Linked DNA regions of Homo sapiens. The protein of the gene in region 4 purifies or fractionates together with the protein of the main gene of each other region. This does not show direct contact. Each region holds a gene or a part of one and is shown on either strand. Other genes may lie near its edges. The genes, in order: CDH5, DNMT1, RANBP2, CHFR and KIF22.

Evidence for each region.
Region 1: the proteins of CHFR (region 4) and CDH5 purify together in Homo sapiens (affinity purification with western blotting, with the first as the bait; one study listed by BioGRID). This does not show direct contact.
Region 2: the proteins of CHFR (region 4) and DNMT1 purify together in Homo sapiens (affinity purification with western blotting; one study listed by BioGRID). This does not show direct contact.
Region 3: the proteins of CHFR (region 4) and RANBP2 purify together in Homo sapiens (affinity purification with mass spectrometry, with the first as the bait; one large-scale study listed by BioGRID). This does not show direct contact.
Region 5: the proteins of CHFR (region 4) and KIF22 purify together in Homo sapiens (affinity purification with western blotting; one study listed by BioGRID). This does not show direct contact.

What each region holds. Positions count from the first base shown.
Region 1 is NC_000016.10:66,364,843-66,370,105, reverse strand, and holds the start of CDH5 (cadherin-5 preproprotein), read right to left. Parts: upstream 3,416-5,263; 5' UTR 3,348-3,415; intron 1,464-3,347; exon of another isoform or gene 1,354-1,463; intron 1-1,353. UniProt on the Homo sapiens protein: Cadherins are calcium-dependent cell adhesion proteins. They preferentially interact with themselves in a homophilic manner in connecting cells; cadherins may thus contribute to the sorting of heterogeneous cell types.
Region 2 is NC_000019.10:10,132,500-10,136,670, reverse strand, and holds the end of DNMT1 (DNA (cytosine-5)-methyltransferase 1), read left to right. Parts: intron 1-383; coding exon 384-550; intron 551-818; coding exon 819-935; intron 936-2,363; coding exon 2,364-2,454; intron 2,455-2,969; coding exon 2,970-3,004; 3' UTR 3,005-3,325; downstream 3,326-4,171. UniProt on the Homo sapiens protein: Methylates CpG residues. Preferentially methylates hemimethylated DNA. Associates with DNA replication sites in S phase maintaining the methylation pattern in the newly synthesized strand, that is essential for epigenetic inheritance.
Region 3 is NC_000002.12:108,725,263-108,729,825, reverse strand, and holds part of RANBP2 (E3 SUMO-protein ligase RanBP2), read right to left. Parts: intron 695-4,563; coding exon 627-694; intron 1-626. UniProt on the Homo sapiens protein: E3 SUMO-protein ligase which facilitates SUMO1 and SUMO2 conjugation by UBE2I. Involved in transport factor (Ran-GTP, karyopherin)-mediated protein import via the F-G repeat-containing domain which acts as a docking site for substrates.
Region 4 is NC_000012.12:132,845,833-132,850,395, forward strand, and holds part of CHFR (E3 ubiquitin-protein ligase CHFR), read right to left. Parts: intron 2,893-4,563; coding exon 2,809-2,892; intron 2,324-2,808; coding exon 2,253-2,323; intron 1,299-2,252; coding exon 1,211-1,298; intron 1-1,210. UniProt on the Homo sapiens protein: E3 ubiquitin-protein ligase that functions in the antephase checkpoint by actively delaying passage into mitosis in response to microtubule poisons.
Region 5 is NC_000016.10:29,803,171-29,806,800, reverse strand, and holds the end of KIF22 (kinesin-like protein KIF22), read right to left. Parts: intron 3,403-3,630; coding exon of another isoform or gene 3,353-3,402; coding exon 3,193-3,352; intron 2,804-3,192; coding exon 2,736-2,803; exon of another isoform or gene 2,730-2,735; intron 1,988-2,729; coding exon 1,775-1,987; intron 1,687-1,774; coding exon 1,627-1,686; intron 1,539-1,626; coding exon 1,491-1,538; 3' UTR 1,417-1,490; downstream 1-1,416. Other genes in the region: MAZ (myc-associated zinc finger protein), read right to left, coding at 1-99. UniProt on the Homo sapiens protein: Kinesin family member that is involved in spindle formation and the movements of chromosomes during mitosis and meiosis. Binds to microtubules and to DNA. Plays a role in congression of laterally attached chromosomes in NDC80-depleted cells.

The DNA.
Region 1 (5,263 bases), on a different chromosome or scaffold from region 4:
TCGCTTGAATCTGGGAGGTGGAGGTTGCAGTGAGCCAAGATTGCGCCATTGCACTCCAGCCTGGACAACAAGAGCAAAACTCTGTCTCAAAAACAAACAAACAAACAAACAAACAAACAAACAAAAAAGTCTCCAGTGAATATGCAAACACCCCTGAGCAGGGCACCTCTTAAGACAGGGCTGGCAAAACAGAACTCAGCTTGCCACATGCCCCTTTCCACACCTATGGCAGACATCACGAATCAATCACTCAAAGACTGTATTGAGGATCCTCATAGACTGTATTGAGGATTCAGGGGCTGAGTTCAAGTTCATTCCCACTGAATGAAGGTAGAGGGTACCAACTGGCCAGACCTATTTTGTGATGTGAAACAAATTTGTGCTGGAATCTCTGGGCTCCGGGTCATCTAGTCTATCCCCTTGCCTTCTAAAGGGACAGCTCCAAACTTCAAGGAGAGAACACCCATGCTAAGGAGGCTTCCAGACTCCTCTGGGCTTCCTGACTTTGTCTGGGACTGTCAGGGCAGTGCGGGGAACAGAATGAGGCCCTTGCACCTGCCTATTTGAACCTGCCCAGCTGCTCGGGAGCTGTGTGACCTTGGGTTCATCTCTTGCTTGCTGAGCCTCAGCTTCCTTATCTGTAATGGAGGCAACAATAGCTGCCTCCCTGGGCAGGAGGATTAAATGAGATCATGGGTGCAAAGCCTGGCACACAGTAGGTGCTCAGTAAGGGTGCAGGTGTCTTGACTCCTATCTACCCGCCCTCTCCAGCCTGGTGGGTGTGGCTTTGACTGGCCAACTTACGCTTGACCTCATTTCCTGGCTCTACTCTGGGCCCACCTCCTACTCTTTCTGTTCCTCTGCAGAAGGAAATCTCATTCACCACCAGCCCGGCCTGCCCCTGGGTCCCACTTCCTCCTCCTTCTAGTATCTGGACCTGCCAGGATCTGACTGTTTTGCTATGGTCCAAGGCAGACAACCTGGAAATCCCTGAATTAGTTTAGGGACCATCCCCTACTCTCAAGAGATGGGAAGACTGAGGTGCAGGCTGCAGAGGGGCTGCCCAAGGCCTCCTAGCATCTGGGATTCCCACTCTTCCTCCAGCAAGCCCTCCATGATTTACCCACTTAACACCAGCTTGAACCTGGATCAGGACAGACTTTTTAGTATCTCCTCAGCCAGAGGTGAAGCTCCTGAGGCCCTGCCTCCTAGAACATTCCTTCCCCTGGTATCACTGGGCTCCTGGCTTGTCCCTGTGCCTGCCTCTGTGGCCTGGACTGCTCTGCTTTCCCCCTCTCTGAGCTTCACTGTGGAGTGTGGCATGGACTGTGGGTCAGAAGGAACCGCACTCACCCTGCTTCTACCTTGTGTTGGTTGTGTGACCTTGGACTGGCTGCACAGCTTCCCTCAGCCTCGATGGTCCCATCTGTCAAATGGGAATTCTCATAGTTGCTTCAGTGTGACTGAGGGGGTGCAGAGAGAGGATACAGGGAACAGTCATGGGTCCATGTGGGCAAAATGAGCCTAAGATTCTTCCTGGGATGGTGTCCCCTCTGTCCCCTGGGTGTCCCCAAGTCAGCAGTGAATCATCCAACTTTGCAGAAAATGTGTGGCCCCTGCTGGCTTCCTGCCCTCATGTCCGGCCCTTGTTTGGCAACACAATAGCTCAGGCTGAGGCTGCAGGCGGGCAGCTTAACCCCTTCCAGGCCAGTATACACCTCCCCTACCCCTCACCACCATAAGCTGAAATTGGTAGGGCTGCTCAGGGGCTCAGCAGCTCTTGGGCCCCTTGGTGGATACCTGCTGCTCTCTAGGGCAGGCAGAGGAGAGTCCCAGGCTTCCCACCACCTGAGGATGGACCAGGGCTTCTGGCCCTGGCTCCAGTGGCCTGTGGCAAAAGAGCCTTCCAGGTACACCCTCGACTCCTCAAAGCTGCCTCCCTGGGAATGCCCTTCCTCTCTTGTCAGAATCCTATCTGCCCATCACACATGAGAAACGTCCACGCTGGGGAGGGAGCCTGACATGGAGCAGAGGCCCAGAGGTGCTCGCGATGTCCTCTCACTTGCACCCCCTTCCTCGTACCTGCTGGGCACCTGAGGACCCCTCCGTGATGGGGTTTGACCATACCTCAAGGGCCAAAATCTTTATCACATTCACAACCAGGATCGGCTCTGTGCTAGCTGGTAAATCCAGCCACTATTCCTTAAAGATCTCATGTTATGTGCCATTCCCAGCACCAGGGATGTAGCTCACTTCACTCAATTGACTGAGGAAACACTGTTTCCCCATTTCACAGATGAGACACTTGAGACCTGGGGAGAGCTGGGGCTTTGGAGTACGAGATCCTGGTTCAAATCCCCACACCAGCTCATATGTTTCCAAAGCTCAGTTGCTTTCACTGAGATATAAAGAAAGAATGTATCTACCTTGTGGAGTTGTTAATGGTAAAATAATGAGCCCCACACCATCCCTTGTTCCCCACTGTGGTTTGGAAACTCTGGGTAACTTTCCCAAGGTCACCCCAGAGCAAATGGGAGAGCTGGGATCTGTACCCAGGGCAGCTGTCTCCAGGCCAGGCTCTTGGCCCAGACCTCCTGCTTCTGGGGGACTTCCTGGGCTGTGGGGGCCTTGGGGCTCTTATGCTCTAGCCTTTGAAAGGGTGCTGGTGGGAGGAATGGTGGACCGCTGTCCAGACTACAGCTCCCTTGACACATAGTGGGCCCCGATGGTGTTTGGGCAGGGAAAGGCCCAGAGGGAAAGGCAAGACCTCAAGTGCCCAGAGCCAAGCCTCAGCTTGCCTATCCTGAAATGGGGGCACTGGCTGACCGAGAGGGGCCAAGGCTCGGAGCTTCCTTTTCAGGGCCCCTCCCCAGATCCCAGCATAGAGCTTTAGTGGCGTATGGGTAGGGGGCTGAGGAGGCTGGTGTCAGGCCTTGGTAAATCCTCTCCAGTAAGGGTAAGGCACCGAGGGGAGGCCAAGGCCTGGGTGCCAGTCCTCTGCCCCGGCATGCTGGGCAACTGGGGCAGAATACTGCCCTCTCTGAGCCTGGCACTGATGAAGGCCAGTGGGCCTTTTTGAGTTGGAGAATACACTTCTGGGAGAGCCAAGCCCTTGCCCTGCCCCCCTCAGCCCCGAGATGCCCATTTGTGCCCTTGGCACTACCTCTGGGTGCACCTTCCCCGACCCTGCTCTGAGCCACGAGGAGGCCCAGCGTGCCCTCGAGGAGCCTCTCTGTCATGGGAGTGGGACGATGCCCATTCTACAGATGGGGAAGCTGAGGACCCTCCCATCTTGGGCGCAGGGTGGCGGGTTTGGGGTGGAGGGGAGTGTGGGAGCCCCCACTCACCGTGCCTGTGGGCTGAGGGATGTTTCTGTTCCGTTGGACTGCCTGTCCGTCCAGGGCTGAGCGTGAGTGGAGCTCTGTGGAGCCTGTCAGCCGACCGTCTTTGGAGGGGAGCCACACCCCGCTGGCGAGGGAGGCCTGGCTGCCTCCCCTTCAGGTTTTCCAGCTGGCCCTGGCCCACTTCCCCCTGGGATGGTTTCCTGTTATTGTTCCTTTGTGAGGGCTGGGCTGGCTGCAGATAGGCAGGCCCTGCGGTGGGCGGCTGCCTCGGCCCCGGATGGCTGTCTCCACAGAGGGCTGGCACTGGACCCTGCCTGGGGCACCCCACTTGAACCCCTACTCCCGGCCTCAGCTCTGGGACTCTGAACCCAGCACCTGCAAAGAGCCTGGCTGTGGGGACCCTTGGCTGCAGCATCACATTTAACCCTCCTTGGAATGCTACAGGCAGGTGTCATCACCCCCATTTTATAGCCCGGGAAGCTGAGGCTCAGCGGGTTTAAGGTGCTTGTCCACCCAGCTGGGGTATAAAAGAGCCAAAAATCTAGCTGGGGTCAGCCTAGCCCCAGAGCTTGATTTTCTGTGGTGATCCCATGATGTCTTTGTGGGAATGGACTTTAAAGGTGACAGGGAGGCTTCAGGAGATGGGAAAGGGACAGAAGCTCTTGGCTCTGGAGGACCAGGTTGGCTTCTCCTGGTCAGAGCGGGCATGGACTCCAGCTCTAAGGTGCCAGCCTCGGTCTGTAGGGGATGTTTGCATTTAGGGATATTGGGTGGAGTCAAGTGACCCAGCTCTGCTTCTGATGTGACCTCTGGCCAGTTGTGTCATCCTGGAGCCACAGTTTCCTCATCTGTAAAATGGGGATAATCACAGCCTCATCCTCACAAGGCTTTTGACATAAACGAGAATCAAAGAGGGGCGTGGAAGACAGTGACGCTGAGGCTGGATCAGAGCCCAGAAGAACCAAGAGGCTGGGGGGAAGGGAGGGGCCAAGATTCTGCTGACCAGGAGAGACATAGGAGGAGCTTCTAAAAACTACAGAGGACTGGGCTCACCCCAGATCAACTGATTTGGAATCTCCCAGGGCAGATCCTGGGAATCTGTCCTTTGAAGAGTTGCTTCTGTTTTTCCATGGGTGAATGGTTGGGAAGTCCCAAACTTGTTTTATTATATAGCTGGGCAAGCAGAGACCCTGAGAAAGAGAGGGCCCAGGGCCGTTTAGTAAATCAGAGCACAAGATGGGGAGTGTGATGGAAGGATATTTTTGGAGGAGGAGGGGATAGTGATTCCTCTGTCTCAGGCAGGTTGAGTTTGAGATGCTCGTTAGATACCCAGGTGGAGGTGTCAGGCTGGTGGGGGAGACAGGGGTGAGTCCAGCCTGGAGTCGAGGTTTGGAACCCAACAGCTTATGGCTGGCATCTGAGGCCATGGGCATGGATGAGCTTGGAGGGAGGGAGGACTTGGACCCTCTGACATTTGGGGATCCATTAGAAGAGGGTCCCATGATGAAGGAGGAATGCCAGGAGAGGGCAGAGGAGGAGGGCAGGGGAGTAGTCAGTGGGTCAGCCTGGGGAGCATGAGGGCTGAGACTTAACTTTGGATTTGGAAGATGAGGTCATCAATGACTGTGACCAGAACAGGTTAAACAGGAAAAGGTAGACAAGACAGATTGGAGGGGCTAGAGAAAGGGGAGAAAGGGGGACGGGGATGTGGAGTCACGTGTGACTGTAGCTTCTTCCCCAAGTCTTACAGTGAATGGGAGCAGAGAAGTGGGAGGGTTTTTTTTTTTTTTTTTTTTTTTTTTTTTTAACTATGGCAGCACGCTCATGTCCCCAGGGAGCATCCAGCAGACGGGAAGACAGATGATGCTGGAGACTGAGGAGCGACCTGCTGGAAGGAGAACAGTCCTTGGGGCGGAATT
Region 2 (4,171 bases), on a different chromosome or scaffold from region 4:
TGAGATCAGGAGCTCGAGATCAGCCTGCCCAACATGGTGAAACCCCATCTCTATTAAAACTACAAAAATTAGCCGGGCGTGGTGTCGCACGCCTATAATCCCAGCTATTTGGGAGGCTGAGGCAGGAGAATCGCTTGAACCCCATAGGCAGAGGTTGCAGTGAGCCAAGATCATGCCATTGCACTCCAGCCTGGGCAACAGAGCGAGACATATAATACTAATAATAAAAACAGTGCCCAGAGAACGAGGATTGTTGGCTGCTCCACCCCAGGGGGCCCCTTGCACAGGAGGTGCCATCTCTGCCTCCCAAAGCTCTAAGAGCCACTGTCCCAAGCCTATACCCCATCCCACAACTGCAGCCTCATCACTGTCCTGTCTTCCAGCCGGCAAAGCCTGCGACCCCGCAGCCAGGCAGTTCAACACCCTCATCCCCTGGTGCCTGCCCCACACCGGGAACCGGCACAACCACTGGGCTGGCCTCTATGGAAGGCTCGAGTGGGACGGCTTCTTCAGCACAACCGTCACCAACCCCGAGCCCATGGGCAAGCAGGTAGGTGGGGAGGGGGCATCCGAGGGCCTGGGTCAGGCCCTGTACTTGGCGGCCTAACTAGGTGGAAGTGTGGGTTTAGCCAAGTGGGGGACAGCACCCCAGGACCCCAGGCACCTGGCCTCTGCCTCCTGCCCCTCCACGTCCACGGGACAAGCTCATAGGCCAAGGCCATGGCCGTATGCTGTCACAGTGCCATTTCCCTCCCTGTCCCCGACGGTGACCCGGCCTGGGTGCTACTGCCCTCGCCCACCGCGCCTCTTTCCCCCAGGGCCGCGTGCTCCACCCAGAGCAGCACCGTGTGGTGAGCGTGCGGGAGTGTGCCCGCTCCCAGGGCTTCCCTGACACCTACCGGCTCTTCGGCAACATCCTGGACAAGCACCGGCAGGTCAGTGGGGCGGCGCCCGCTGGGTCTGGACAGGAAGGAGGCTTCTGTGCCTGTCACCAGGTGGGGCTGGGGCCAGCGCAGTCACTTCCGGGAGGACGCCTGCTGGCTGCCGGGTAGCCCCATCACTCTCAGTGGGAAGACGGCCCACAGGAGGGACAGTGCTGAGACATCCGAGTCAGGCTGCGTCCCTATGCTGGTTCCTTACTGTTTGTTTTTGAGGCAGAGATTGAGCCAGAAGGACAGTCCGTCGCGCTAAAGGAGCAGGCTAAAACCCATGGTGGCGACAGCTCACTCGCTGTAGGTTCAAATGAACTAGCACCTTAATTCCTACCTGCTTCTCAGGTGTCGGGTTGGCTTAACAAGTTAGTCTATGAGTTAGTCTCAGTTAAGTGTATTTTCATCATAGGGCACGCGCATTGCTTAAAAACCAGTGTCCACGGTTCTTGTGAAAACCACATTTCACCCCTCCCCCCGAATCTGGTTCTCGGGAAGCAGCCACTCTCTCTTTTTTTTTTTTTTTTTTGAGATGGAGCTTTGTTCTTTCGCCCAGGCTGGAGTGAAGTGGCGTGATCTCAGCTCACCGCAACTTCCACCCCCCTGGTTTTAAGTGATTCTCCTGCCTCAGCCTCTTGAGTAGCTGGGATTACAGTCATGTGCTACCACACCCGGCTAATTTTTGTATTTTTAGTAGAGATGGGGTTTCACCATGTTGGCCAGGCTGGTCCCGAACTCTTGACCTCAGGTGATCCGCCTGCCTCGGCCTCCCAAAGTGCTGGGATTACAGGCATGAGCCACTGCGCCGGCCAGGGAAGCAGCCACTCTTAACTGGGAGCGAAACGTGTCTAGGTGGCCCATTTGTCTTTTTTTTTTTTTTTTCTGAGACAGGGTCTCACTCTGTCCCCTAGGCTGGAGTGCAGTGACATGATCTCTGCCCACTGCAACCTCCACCTCCAGGGTTCAAGTGATTCTCCTGCCTCAGCCTCCTGAGGTGCTGGGATTACAGGCATGTGCCACCATGCCCAGCTAATTAGTTTTTGTACTTTTAGTAGAGACGGGGTTTCACCATGTTGGCGAGGCTGCTCTCGAACTCCTGGCCTCAACTAATCCACCTGCCTTGGCCTCCCAAAGTGCTGGGATTACAGGCGTGAGCCACTGCTCCCAGCCCCACGTGTCTTTGTCTCAAGTCTTTCTGAAGCTCTTCAAAGGCCCAGTGACTTGTGGCTGTGGGGCGGGATGATGGGCCAGTTGGAGGGTCCAAGGATCTTGTGCTGGAAGGGTTTTGGGCCCATGTGAGCAGGACCAGAACCCTTCCCCAAGGGGTGCAATGCCCAGGTTGTCCTCCATCTGAGCAGGGGCTGGCAGTACACCTGCCCCCGGGCCTTGGGCCTGGGTGTCCACATCAGGCATTGCCCTTCTCCCCTCCTGCAGGTGGGCAATGCCGTGCCACCGCCCCTGGCCAAAGCCATTGGCTTGGAGATCAAGCTTTGTATGTTGGCCAAAGCCCGAGAGAGTGCCTCAGGTATGGTGGGGTGGGCCAGGCTTCCTCTGGGGCCTGACTGCCCTCTGGGGGTACATGTGGGGGCAGTTGCTGGCCACCGTTTTGGGCTCTGGGACTCAGGCGGGTCACCTACCCACGTTCGTGGCCCCATCTTTCTCAAGGGGCTGCTGTGAGGATTGAGTGAGTTGCACGTGTCAAGTGCTTAGAGCAGGCGTGCTGCACACAGCAGGCCTTTGGTCAGGTTGGCTGCTGGGCTGGCCCTGGGGCCGTTTCCCTCACTCCTGCTCGGTGAATTTGGCTCAGCAGGCACCTGCCTCAGCTGCTCACTTGAGCCTCTGGGTCTAGAACCCTCTGGGGACCGTTTGAGGAGTGTTCAGTCTCCGTGAACGTTCCCTTAGCACTCTGCCACTTATTGGGTCAGCTGTTAACATCAGTACGTTAATGTTTCCTGATGGTCCATGTCTGTTACTCGCCTGTCAAGTGGCGTGACACCGGGCGTGTTCCCCAGAGTGACTTTTCCTTTTATTTCCCTTCAGCTAAAATAAAGGAGGAGGAAGCTGCTAAGGACTAGTTCTGCCCTCCCGTCACCCCTGTTTCTGGCACCAGGAATCCCCAACATGCACTGATGTTGTGTTTTTAACATGTCAATCTGTCCGTTCACATGTGTGGTACATGGTGTTTGTGGCCTTGGCTGACATGAAGCTGTTGTGTGAGGTTCGCTTATCAACTAATGATTTAGTGATCAAATTGTGCAGTACTTTGTGCATTCTGGATTTTAAAAGTTTTTTATTATGCATTATATCAAATCTACCACTGTATGAGTGGAAATTAAGACTTTATGTAGTTTTTATATGTTGTAATATTTCTTCAAATAAATCTCTCCTATAAACCACCCTGGGTGGGTATTCGTGATTTGCACGGGACTTCTGGCTGAGGTCAGACAGGAACAAGCTCTTCCATGCTGAAGGCGACCCACGTGGAGTTTGAAGCTAGCACGTTTGAAGCTAGACACTCCGTGTGTCTGTCTGTGTTTGTTCAGAACTGAGTCACGTGAGTTGATCCCCATGACATGCAAATGGAACTTGCTAGTGTAGCTTCCAGGAAAGCCTTTTAAAGGAAGTCTTGGCTGGCCTTCCCCGTGGCTGGTAGGCCTTCTTTGGTCTGAAGTGGGTTGTGATGCCTGGCAGTGGAGCAGCCATCCTGTGACCATGAGGCAGAGCTCTGTGCTGCAACTGGTGGAATAAGGAGAGAGAAGTCACCACTGAGCTGCCCTTGGAGCCCCGGCCACCCCATCCCCAAGCAAAACCTCTTTAGTTGGGTTTTTTTTCTTTCCAAAGAATTTTTTTTTTTTTTTGAGACAGTCTTGCTCTGTTGCTCAGGCTGTAGTGCAGTGGGGCAGTCTCCGTTCAATGCAGCCTCTGCCTCCTGGGTTCAAGAAATTCTGCCTCAGCCTCCCGAGTAGCTGGGATTGTAGGCGCCCATCACCACGCCCAGCTAATTTTTGTATTTTTAGTAGAGACGATGTTTCACCATGTTGGCCAGGCTGGTCTTGAAATCCTGACATGATCCGCCCACCTGGACCTCCCAAAGTGCTGGGTTACAGGTGTGATCCACTGCACCCAGCCTCCCATTAGCTTTTTTTTTTTTTTTTTTGAGACAGTTTCGTTCTTGTTGCCCAGGCTGGAGTGCGGTGGCACGATCTCTGCTCACTGCAACCTCCGCCTCCCAGGTTCAAGTG
Region 3 (4,563 bases), on a different chromosome or scaffold from region 4:
ATCTCTTGAGCCCAGAAGGCAGAGGTTACAGTGAGCAAAGATGGAGCCAGCTGCTGCACTCCAGCCTGAGCAAGAGAGACAGATACTGCCTAAAAAAAAAAAAAAAAAGCCTGACTCCCTCTTAATTTCCTGCTTTAATCCACTCCAAGTCAGGAAATCAGAATCACCAAGCTTCTTATCCCTAGGATAGAGCCTTAGAGCATCACATATTGTGTCAATTAAACATCTTTTATACAAGCTATTCTCCTGCCTTACAATTACGGTTTAATTTTTTATTCATTGCTATTTTCCATCTGATTAAGGTATCAGATATCTAACCAAAAACAAATTAAGATATAGGCATGGTCCTCTTTTACTCCAACAGAAGACAATTTTTAGAAAAAGTATTTGAAGCCAAACAATTTCTTGCCCTTGGTATAAAGCAGCAGCATGCAGAAAACACTAATTACGGTTTCAATCTCAATGGAATCTAGGCTGGTCCTTAGCATCAGTCTGAGTGATAAATCCCTTATTCCAGAATACACTTAGGAAGAACTACTAAGAACATATTTTTACCTATTTCAAAGAAGAAAATGAGAAAAGGCATTGATTTTAAAAAAAAAATACATGTTACAGTTTGTACTTACTTTTTAGCAAGATCATATTCTTTAGCTTCATAATACAGCTTTGCAAAATAGAATCCTTTCATTGACTTCTAAAAAAAATTAAAAGTTGTTTTACTTTTCATACAGAAATATTTTCCAACATTTTTTCAAAAGTAGTAAAAATCTGTCCTAAGTTGATGTTCAAATACGCCACTTTCATTCACTTAAAAGTTTTTTTAAAGGCTGACAAATGCATAATTCCATGTTTTATAATTTCCTATCACAAAACAAAAAATAGAGCTGGGTGCAGCGGCTCATGCCTGTAATCCCAGCACTTTGGGAGGCCGAAGTGGGCGGATCACCTGAGGTCAGGAGTTTGAGACCAGCCTGGCTAACATGGTGAAACCCCGTCTTGACAAAAATACAAAAATTAGCCAGGCATGATGGTGGGTGCCTGTAACCCCAGCTACTCGGGAGGCTAAGGCACGAGAATCAGTTGAACCCAGGAGGTGGAGGTTGCAGTGAGCCAGAGGTTGCAGTGAGCTGAGATCGTGCCATTGCACTCCAGCCTGGGCGACAGAGCGAGACTCCATCTCCCAAACATCATCATCATCATCATCATCATCATCATCATCATCATCATCATAAATAAGCTGGGTGCAGTTGGTCACACCTTTAATTCTAGCACTTTCAGAGACCAAGGTGGGAGGCTAGCTTTGAGGCCAAGAGTTTGAAACCAGCCTGTGCAACACAACAAGATCCTGTCTCCAGGGAGAAAAAAATAGCCAGGCATAGTGGAGCATGCCTGTGTTCCTAGCTACTCAGGAGGCCAAGGAAGGAGAATCACTTGAGCCCAGGAGGTTGACACTGCCGTGAGTTATGACTGTGACACTGCACTCCAGCGTGGGTGACACAGGGAGATCCTCTCTCTAAATAATAAATACATAACATACAAAAAATAAATTCAAGAAAGTAAGACAAGCAGACAACAGAAGAATTTTCATCAGCCTTGGAAATCTTGGAAACCCTGTGGTACCACTCTCTCACTTAACAAACAAAAGAAACCAGCTTTCTTTGGGGAGGAAAGGTATTCCAGAAATCTCTTTTCCTACCATGTGTAAGCCTCTATGGGAAAGAATAAGTAAGTACTTAGGATCTATTAAGGCACTGAGGATTCCCTGGTCCATGTACTGTTCTCTCTACAGATCAGATCAGTATTTTACAGTCAAGGAGTCAAAAAGGCAGAAATAAATATTGAATTCTTCAAGTAATAAACGAGGTCCACAGCCTGGCTCCTTGGTTACATAAACTCCAAAGTCCAAAATGCTGATGCACACCAGGCTGGGTGCGGTGGCTCACACCTGTAATCCCAGCACTTTCGGAGACCGAGGCGGGCGGATCACCTGAAGCCAAGAGTTCGAGACCAGCCTGGCCAACATGCAGAAACCTCCTTTCTACTAAAAATACAAAAATTAGCTGGGCATGGTGGCACACCCCTGTAATCCCCACTGCTTGGGAGGCTGAGGCAAAGAATCGCTTGAATCCGGGAGGCAGAGGCTGCAGTGGGCCAAGATCGCACCACTGCACTCCAGCGTGGGCAACAGAATGATTCCATCTCAAAAAAAAAAAAAAAAAAAATGCTGATACAACCAGAGTATGTTCCATCCATGTGATAAAGAGTATACAGCTACTCAAACATCTTATTTTTGAAATTCCAAGACCCCAGTGAATGTCCAAAACGATGAATAGTATCAAACCAGGTTGCCGTCAATCGAAACATGTTTCCTGTTTGTGTCCTCCACCCACAAATTTAATGTCTTGTCCATCTCAACTAAGCACTTATCACACACTATGGCTGTAACTTTTGCAGTTTGGGGTGTCACAACAAAACTAGCACAAATTTCTTTTTCCTTCTTCACAATTTCATGGACAAAAGATTTGTTCTTACCATAGATCTTAGCAACTCCAGTATATGATCTTTTTTCTTTCCTAAGTCAAAAACTCACCTCTTCTGAGGGGCGCCTCTGCCCGGCCGCCCCTACTGGGAAGTGAGGAGCCCCTCTGCCCGGCCACCACCCCGTCTGGGAGGTGTACTCAACAGCTCATTGAGAACGGGCCATGATGACAATGGCGGTTTTGTGGAATAGAAAGGCGGGAAAGGTGGGGAAAAGATTGAGAAATCGGATGGTTGCCGTGTCTGTGTAGAAAGAAGTAGACATGGGAGACTTTTCATTTTGTTCTGCACTAAGAAAAATTCTTCTGCCTTGGGATCTTGTTGATCTGTGACCTTACCCCCAACCCTGTGCTCTCTGAAACATGTGCTGTGTCCACCCAGGGTTAAATGGATTAAGGGCGGTGCAAGATGTGCTTTGTTAAACAGATGCTTGAAGGCAGCATGCTCGTTAAGAGTCATCACCACTCCCTAATCTCAAGTAATCAGGGACACAAACACTGCGGAAGGCTGCAGGGTCCTCTGCCTAGGAAAACCAGAGACCTTTGTTCACTTGTTTATCTGCTGACCTTCCCTCCACTATTGTCCCATGACCCTGCCAAATCCCCCTCTGTGAGAAACACCCAAGAATTATCAATAAAAAAATAAATTAAAAAAATAATAATAATAAAAAGCAAGGTGAGACTACAGTACTCTCCCTCTGCCATGTGAGGACAAGATGCCAGCCAACCTATAAGCCAGGAAGAAAGCCCTCATCAGGAACCAAAGCAGCAGCACCCTGATCTGCCGCTTCTAGCCTCCAGAACCATGAGAAAATAAATTTCTGTTGTTTAAGCCAAAAAAAAAAAAAAACAAAAAAACTCACCTCTTCACTTAAAGGAAGCACTATATGGCTTCTCTCTGCATATGTGAACTGCCAGCATCGCTACTCTTGCTCTTTGGTGCCATTTTAAATAAAATAAAGGTTACTTGAACACAAGCACTGCAATACTCCAACAACTGATCTGATAACTGAGATGACTAGTATGTAACTAGCGGGTGGCGAGCACATACAGCATGAATATGTCGGACAAAGGGATGACTTGTGTCCTAGGTAGGACGGAGCAGGAGGCCGTGAGATTTTTACCATGTTATTCAGAACCGTTTGCAATTTAAAACTCATGAAATGTTTATTTATATAATCTTCCATTCAATATTTTTGGACCACGGGTGACACAGCTAAGTAAAACCACGTAAGGCAATACTGTGGATAAGAAGGGACTACTGTACCAGCAACGAACAATCAGAAAAGGAAATTAAGAAAGCAATTCCATTTACAATCGCATCTAAAAGAAAAAAATGCCTGGGAATAAATGTAAACAAGGAGGTGAGAGACTTGTATGCTTAAATTACAAAACGTTGCTCAATGCCAGGCTAACACCTGCAATCCCAGCACTGGCGACAGAGCAAGCCTCCGTCTCAAAAAAAAAAAGAACTACAGCAATCTTAACAAAAATAATACACAGCAGTCAGGACAGCACGTAAAGGAACAAGGCTTGTTCCCCCCTTCCTTTTTTTTTTTGAGATGGAGTCTTGCTCTGTCGCCAGGCTGCAGTGCAGTGGCTCGATCTCAGCTCACTGCAACCTCTGCCTCCCGGGTACAAGCTGGGACTACAGGCGCACGCCACCATGCCCAGCTAATTTTTGTATTTTTAGTAGAGATGGGGTTTCACCATGTTGGCCAAGATGGTCTCGATCTCTTGACCTTGTGATCTGACTTCCTCCACCTCCCAAAGTGCTGGGATTACAGGCGTCAGCCATTGAGCCCAGCCAGTTCCCCCTTTTCAAAATGAAGAAATAGATTCAAGGTACAATGCCAAAACATAATAGAAAAATAATTCCATTACCTTCTTTGCTTCCAACTATGTTATTAAAGTAGACAATCTTAAGATAATTAAACAACTTTACAAATTATTCTTCTATATGATCTTTTGCCTCTAACCTGCTCACTTTACAAGGGAACTGAAGCTCAAGCAGGTAAATGCCTTG
Region 4 (4,563 bases):
CCTCCAAGCTGGCCCCACCTGTTGGAGGCCACACAAATGTTTCTTATGATTAGGCATAATTGAAGCCTGTCAGTAACAGTATGAACCTGTGATCAATTTAGCAGCTGCCCAGTTGTTACCTCCTCCTTGCTCTTGTTACCCAATAAATATGAAGGGCTGTAGAAGCTCAGGGGCAGCCTTTACTCACTAGAAGCAGGGAGCTCTCCTCTTCTTCCCCATGTTGCCTTTCCTTAAAAGTTTCTTTTGTCTTTTTGTTTTCATTTCTACGTTTGTCCCTTTGTTCAGTCCTGTAATGATGGTCTCAAGCAGTAACAGCAGTAACTGCTGTAGTGAGGGTCTCAAGCAGCAGTAGTGGCAGTCGGCCACACCCACCCTCCCCTACAAGGATAGAAGCTGCTGGAATATGTCATACAGGTTCATGCTTAACTGTCTTTTTTTTTTTTTTTTTGAGACGGAGTCTCGCTCTGTCCCCCAGGCTGGAGTGCAGTGGCGTGATTTTGGCTCACTGCAAGCTCCGCCTCCCGGGTTCACGCCATTCTCCTTCCTCAGCCTCCCGAGTAGCTGGGACTACAGGCGCCCGCCACCACGCCCGGCTAATTTTTTGTATTTTTCTTTTTTTAGTAGAGACAGGGTTTTACCGTGTTAGCCAGGATGGTCTCAATCTCTTGACCTCATGATCCGCCCGCCTCAGCCTCCCAAAGTGCTGGGATTACAGGCGTGAGCCACCACACCCGGCCCACGCTCAACTTTCAAAAAACAACCTGAAGGCCGGGCATAGTGGCTCACGCCTGTAATTCCAGCACTTTGGGAAGCTGAGGTGGGCAGATCACCTGAAGTCAGAAGTTCAAGACCAGGCTGGCCAACATGGGGAAACCCCATCTTTACTAAAAATACAAAATTAGCTGGGTGTGGTGGCACATGCCTGTAATCCCAGCTACTCAGGAGGTTGATGCAGGAGAATCGCTTGAACCCAGGAGGCCGAGGGGGCCTTGAGCTGAGATCATGCCACTGCACTCCAGTCTGGGCAACAAGAGCGAGACTCCATCTCAAAAAACAAACAAACAAACAAAAACAACCTGAAAGCATCAGGATCTTTTTCCTCTCTTCCAGGGTGGGTGAAGGTCGGAGTTGTCACTGGGAGAGCAGACACGCAGGCACAGCCCTGGACACTCACATGCGCCTTAGAGCAGGAGGCAACAGAAGAACTCACCAGACAGCAGAAACACTCCCCGCTGGAGAGCCACGAGGCTCTCGGTCAACATGTTTTTCCATGTCAAACCTCTGGTTGCCAGGTAATTCTGTGACGCAAAAAAAGAGAGGAATAAGAAATACTCGTTTAGAGGAAGAAACACTGAAATAACGAGAGAAAACATTTCATAAAAGGCCCCTGAAAGTGTGCAAAGCCAAAGCTCAGACCCTTATAAGTGGCATTTGCAGAGGGCTGCACGTTCACGGCCTGCAGCACGAGAAGTCTTGTCCAAGAGCCTCCTGGAAGTCCCAAAAGGTTCCAGTGTAACAGTTACCAGAGTCTCTCAAAAGTTCTGCCAAGACCTACACAGCCCAGGTGTGAATGAGACATGAAAGCCAGGCCACAGTGCACACAGCCCAGCAACGAGCCCAGGCTGTTGCACAAGAAAAGCTGAGGACTTGGCATCTGTTCTCTGTGCCCTTCAAACACACACGAGCTGTTGAGCTCCTTCTGTGGGCATCAAAGCAGAGTGTGGGGCTGAGCGGGCGCCTGCCAGGTGTGTCTGTGGCAAGCCTCAAGGCCCCACCATTGTGTGTGCTGTCAGCAAAGTGCTCGGCAGGAGGGCGAATGCGCATGTTAAACATATGTAAATCCTAGAAACCGAGGTAGCTTCCTAGACGTGGGAAGGCAAATGGCCAGAAGAGACAGGGACCAGAGAAAAGGCCCTGGTCTTGCTAAAGGGCGGCACCTTCAAGAAGCCCTCACCGAGAGCTGTGGGAACAAGAGCTGCCGGGAACAAGAGCTGCGGGAAGCGGCTCCTACGAATTGGTGGCAGGAGGCACAAAAACGAAATACCTATTTTTGGAATACGGAAAAAACAGACAAACACCAATGGCATGCAGAGAACCAGCTGGCTGCACCAGTGAGGAAACATGGCTCCCGGCTCCCCAACCCGCAGCGGGTCAGGTAAAACAGATAAACACCAATAGAATGCAGAGAACCAGCTGGCTGCACTAGGGAGAAAATGTGGCTCCCGGCTCCCCAGCCCGCAGCGAGTCGGTACCTTCAGGATGTCTGACTCGTAGCTGTTGTTGTTCAGCACGCCGTCCAGACACTTGTCACCCAGGTTGAGCTCTGCCGAGATGAAGGGGCAATGTTACCTGTTTATAATGATGTCGCAGGAAAGCACTGTCTGCCCGACACTGAGGATAAACATATTTCTTTTCATTACAGATTCTAGAAAGAATAAGAAGTTCAATGATAAAACTCAATTTTAAACAGAGGACAAGCAGAAATGATTTCCATTCCACTCCCTCCTTAAAAAGATCAGCTCTCCGAGTCTCCCCAGCACCTGGTCTTGGTATCGTAACAGCAGAACCCCGCTGCAAGGATTCTGTCCTGGGAGTATCTCCCCTAATAATTCTGTTAAGGCTTGATTTTGAGCTAACACGAATTTGACACACCTCTGCAGTCCAGCCAGGAATAGGTATCATTTGATGACCAACAGTGGCCTCATCCCTATAAACATCAGGCTATGGACCCCACCATCCCCTGCCCTCAAGTTCACCAAGAGAACATGCAAAGGTCAAAGCAACTGGGGCCTGAAGAGCCAGTATTACCACAAAACGGGGCCAGGCAGCCGTAGCAGCCGGTCCGGGTGCAGCCCCAGTACAGGTGGCAGAAAGGCTGCAGGCAGACCGCACCTGTGGAGAGAGGACACTCGTTACACGCACTCAGCGCTGAGGGCTGTCTCCAACACAATTCGTCAGCACCAGGCTCAGGAGCTCAACTCTTTCTGGAAACATTGTTCAGGAGGGGTCTCATGGAAATCGGGGCGGGGCCACATCCAGCTAACGCCACCCAGGTTGTGATGGACTGTGATGGCGAGGAGTTGTATCCCTGAAAAAAGGCGAGGCTCACATTTTCTGGTTTGTTATTTTTTAGAGATGGAGTCTCGCTCTGTGGCCCAGGCTGGAGTACAGGGGAACAATCACAGCTCACTGCAACCTCCGCCTCCTGGGTTCAAGGGATCCACCCACCTCAGCCTCCTGAGTAGCTAGGACTACAGGTGCACACCACCAGGCCCGGCTAATTTATTTTTTATTTTTGTAGAGACAGGGTCTCACCATGTTGCCCAGGATGGTTTCAAACTCCTGGCTTCAAGGGATCCTCCCACCTCAGCCTCTCAAAGCGCTAGGATTACAGGCATGATGCACTGCGCCCGGCCTCAGACCCACATCGTTTCTTAAACTGAACATTTACAGGCGTGATGCACTGCACCCGGCCTCAGACCCGTATCGTTTCTTAAACTGAACATTTACAGGCGTGATGCACTGCACCCGGCCTCAGACCCGTATCGTTTCTTAAACTGAACATTTACAGGCGTGATGCACTGCACCCGGCCTCAGACCCACATCGTTTCTTAAACTGAACACCACATGCTCATCCCAGGAAAACAGTGAGAGACACAAAAGAAAGAAATCTCACCTGCTCCACCACCCTAACACGGCTTCGATGGGCTTCATTCTAGCTCTGAACATGCAACATGCTTGCCCCCAACTGCACATATTCAGGTGGCTTTTTTTTTTTTTTGAGACAGAGTCTTGCTCTGTGGCCTAGGCTGGAGTATAGTGGAGCAATCTCGGCTCACTGCAACCTCCGCCTCCTGGGTTCAAGCGATTCTCCTGCCTCAGCCTCCCCAGTAGCTGGGATTACAGATGCCCACAACTGGCCAATTTTTTCATTTTTAGTAAAGATGGGGTCTCACCGCGTTGGTCAGGCTGGTCTCAAACTCCTGACCTCAGGTCATCCGCCTGCCTTGGCCTCCCAAAGTGCTGGGATTACAGGCGTGAGCCCATGCCCAGCCTAGGTGGCCTTTTTCTACCTAGGTATTTTTCCATGTTGTCACCTTGGCTTTGTAGACGTTATTTATTTATTTATTTATTTATTTTAGACAGAGTCTTGCTCTGTCACCCAGGCTGGAGTGCACTGGCGCCATCTCGGCTCACTGCAACCTCTGCCTCCCGGGTTCACGCCATTCTCCTGCCTCAGCCTCCCAAGTAGCTGGAACTACAGGCGCCCGCCACCATACACGGCTAATTTTTTGTAATTTTAGTAGAGATGGGATTTCACCATGTTAGCCAGGATGGTCTTGATCTTCTAACCTCGTGATCCACCCACCTCAGCCTCCCAAAGGAAATTATTTTTAATTGTCTGATATTCTATACAATGGAAATCCCTAAAATATAATGTTAGGTAAACCCTCGCTAAAATTCTCACAGGATTGAGTCCTTAAGTCTTATAACGCCTACGACCACTTCACCAATGCCTCTATATACGAAGCATGCTCTGTGAAATTAGAGTGAAGAGTTTGG
Region 5 (3,630 bases), on a different chromosome or scaffold from region 4:
TGGCGGGAAGGAGTTCATGAGGCCGCCCACCCCCCGGGAGTCCAGGCCCAGCACGGGGAAGGGGGGGGCCAGCAGCGTGCAAGGAAACACCGGGAACATGGCCTCGGCCGCAGCGGGGCCCCCGGGGCTCAGCGGGGGCCGGGGGCGCGGGCCGCGCGGGGCCCGGGCTCGGGGCGCCGCCCCCGGCCGGCCGGGCTGGGCCGCGCCGAACGCATGGCCCGCGGGCCGCCCCGCCGCCCGCGCACCCCGGCCGGCGGGAGGGAGGAAAAGAGGGCGCCTTGCGGGCCGCGGAGCGCCGCGGCGACGGCGGCGGCGACGCCCCCTGGGTGGGGGCGGGAGGCCCCGCGGGGCCGGGGCCGGGGGCGGGGGCCCGGGCGGCGGCGGCGGCGGCGGCGGCGGTTGGAGCCTGGCGGGGCGGGGTGGGGGGAGCGAGGGAGCAGCCTCGGCCCCCGCCGCGCGCGCGCCCAGCCGGCGCCTCGGGGAGGGCGGGGGAGGGCGCGAGGGAGGGAGGGGGACAGCTGCGCGCGCACCGGGCGCGCGGAGGGGGGGTGGGACGGGAGGGAGGGCGGGCAGGAGGGGGTGTGGGCAGGGGGGTGGGGGCGGGGGGAGGGAGTTGTTACCTGGAAGATGAAGCTGCTCCAGTTGCTGGGATCCATGGCGGAGGGAGGGAGGGAGGTGGCTCGCGCTCACCCTGGGGCGGGAGGAGGAGGCGGCGGCGGTGGGGGAGGGGGAACCCGGGAGGAGGCGCGCGGGGCGGGCAGGAGGGGGGAGGTGGAGGGTGGGGGAAGCGGAGCACACTACGCGCGGGGAGGGCGGGCGGGGGGCGCGAGGACACACAAGAGGCTGGAGCGGGCGCGAGCGCTAGCGCGAGCGCGCGCGTGGCCAGCGGGAGGGGCAGGCGCGAGAGGGACTCTGGCGGGAGGAGGGACGGGGGAGCCACCCAGCAGCCCGAGTCGCCCCGAGCGCGAGACCCCTGAGACGGCTGCTGATTGGCTGACGATGGCGCAGGTGGTGGGCGCGCGGGAGACAGGGCGGCTTCTCTCCTCTTCCCCCCGCCAACGATTCCACTCCCCCTCCCTCCGCCAGCGGCCGTTATTTCGCGCGCACGCGCACAAGGCCGCCGTCGTTGCCGAGCGGGAGAATGGGGGAGCGCGCGCGCCGGGGGCACGGACGGGGCGGGGCTAATCCCTGAGCGCGCGCCCGCCTAACGGTCGCAGGCCTCATGCTTCGGCTTCCGCTTTTTGCGTCCTGCAGGCCACCGTCCTCCCCGCCCCACCCCAGCGGTGTATTTACAATCCTGCGCTGAGTCGTTCCCCGAAGATGGCGCCCAGTGGAGTCGCCTGCCTTGCTCGCGGCCCACCCCGAGGCGGTCACACCCCGGTCCCGCCCCCGCAGCCCCAAAAATCAGGCGGAAGCACCGGAGCAAAAACTGTATTTACACAACACGGGGTTATACAAAAATTTGAAAAGGCGGAGTGAGGAGACGACGGTCAGGAGGCGCCACAGCGCTGGCCGGCGGCGAGACCCAGGATGTTTGCCTGCAACACAGGAGGGAGGGAGACAGCGACGTTAGAGAGGGGCGCGGGGCGCAGGACAGGCAGAGGAGGGGCAGGGCCGTGACTTCACCTTCAGGAAGGACTCCATCTGTTTCCCCGTTATGCCCTCCACGCGTTCCAGGTCCTCCACCTGGCGGGACAGGATCGATAGGGGACAGGGTCTCGGGGGTACCCGGTCTCCCCCGCCCCCGCCCTCCCCCAGTCCAGTGGGCTGCTACCTGGCTGAAGGGGCCGTGGAGCTCCCGCCAGCCCACGATTAGCTGGGCCTTCTTCGGGCCAATGCGCTGAAGACTGCGGAGATCTCGGGCTGAGCCTTCGTTCAGCAGATCCAGTATTTTTTGGCGCCCATGAGCCAGTAGCTCCGGGCTGATCTGTAGCTCCCAGCAGTCCTCAGCCTTCTCCTCAGGCTCTAGGGCATCCAGGGACTCCAGCTGGGAGGCAAAGGGAGATGAGTGACACGCAGGGCAGCCAAGTGCTTTGGGCTCCTCTGCCAAGACTAGGAGCCCAGCACCAGCTACCTCCTGCGCTCCAGCCTCTTCCTCTCTTGTCAAGTGTGTCCAAAATCCCGCCCTCAGGTCACTCTCTGGGTTAATTCTTATTATGCAACTAGTGAAAGAGAGGTACTACTCAGTACCCAGTGGTAATATTAGCACCCTTCTCATGGAGTTGCTGTGGAGATCAAGTGAGTTAATGAATGTAAAGCACAAAATAAGCTCTTAAATCTGGTCCCTCATCTCTAAAAGGGAAAGAATAAGCTGTCTTTCAAAAAGTACATGGGAGAAAGTAATATGAATAAATGATACCTCCCCCAACCATCTCAGTTTTTGGGTAGTTCTAGTGGTGTTCGATTCTGGGTATGTGCATATGTGTGGTTTCTTGCTTGACTGCTTAGGTCATAGTTCCCTAAGTTTTCCCTCTTAAGCTTGTAGAGGGTAGAAGCCAGGCTACACAGTGGAACATCCGCTCTGCGAGGTACATCCACATCACTGCCTTCCACCCTAAATGCCCTGCAAGGAACCATCCATCACCACATTCCAGGGGTAAGCAAGTTGAGGTCTGTTAGTAGCTGGCGGCCATCATCCAGTTCGTTTAACCCCAAGGCCAACGCTCCTCCCCCTAGAGCCTACTCCCCCTTACTTCTGGGCTCCAGGTGTAGCCTAAGCCCCCAGCTACTTTCACCTTTCTCTTCCGGCCTTTATTCTTCAGGATGTGGATCTCGGCATTTGGGGATGCTGCCTGCTCCTGAACTGAAAGTAGGAATCGAGAATTGGAGTCAGGGCAAAGGGTACTTTTCACCCTCCCTGGTAGCCCTTCGATTCTTCCATTTCTGATTCCCCAGCTCCCCTCCATCCAGAGTTAACCTGTTGTGTTTCCACATGACCTTTTTTATACCCGCATTTAAAGGAATTTCAGTCAGTCTTGCATTATCTTCAATCCTCTACTCGTTTGTCCATCCCACTGTCCTAAACACCCGAGGGCAGAGCACCCCCAGCACTGCCTCAGAGCCTCCTCACCCCTCCCTGGGACTGGTATGTGGTGGGAGAATATGAATGACATGGAGACAGCTGCTCCTAACACTTCCTCCCTTATAGGATCTCAGCTGCCTTGGCCCCCCAGCCCCTGGAGTCAAACTTACTTAGCTGTAGGGGCATCACCACAGCCTTTTTCAGGGGCTTTGCCCCTGTGACTGTGCGATGTGAAAGGGGCCGGAGCATTGTGGGACAATGGTTCTCCTTTTCCTCAGCCTTCTGGGCCAACATCTTGGCCTCCAGTTCTTTTTGCTTCGTCTTAAGCCTCTGTTGGAAAGGATCAGGGAGATGTGATCCAGACCCAACTCCAGGGCAGCCTGAAGGGAGTGGGTTACCAGGGTGAGTATGCAAGGCTCTGAGCCCCCAGAGGGCAGGGCTAGGACCAGTGGGAGGTTACCAGGAGACAGGTGGAGCCTAACATAATTAAGGGCTTTCTGTGATTAGGGGGCTACCCAGAGGTGGAACAAGCCTCTGCAAATATTGAAGGGAAAGGCTTTTCAAGCACAGTCCTCAATTAATTGAGCTGGGCTTTAGGAAATGTAATG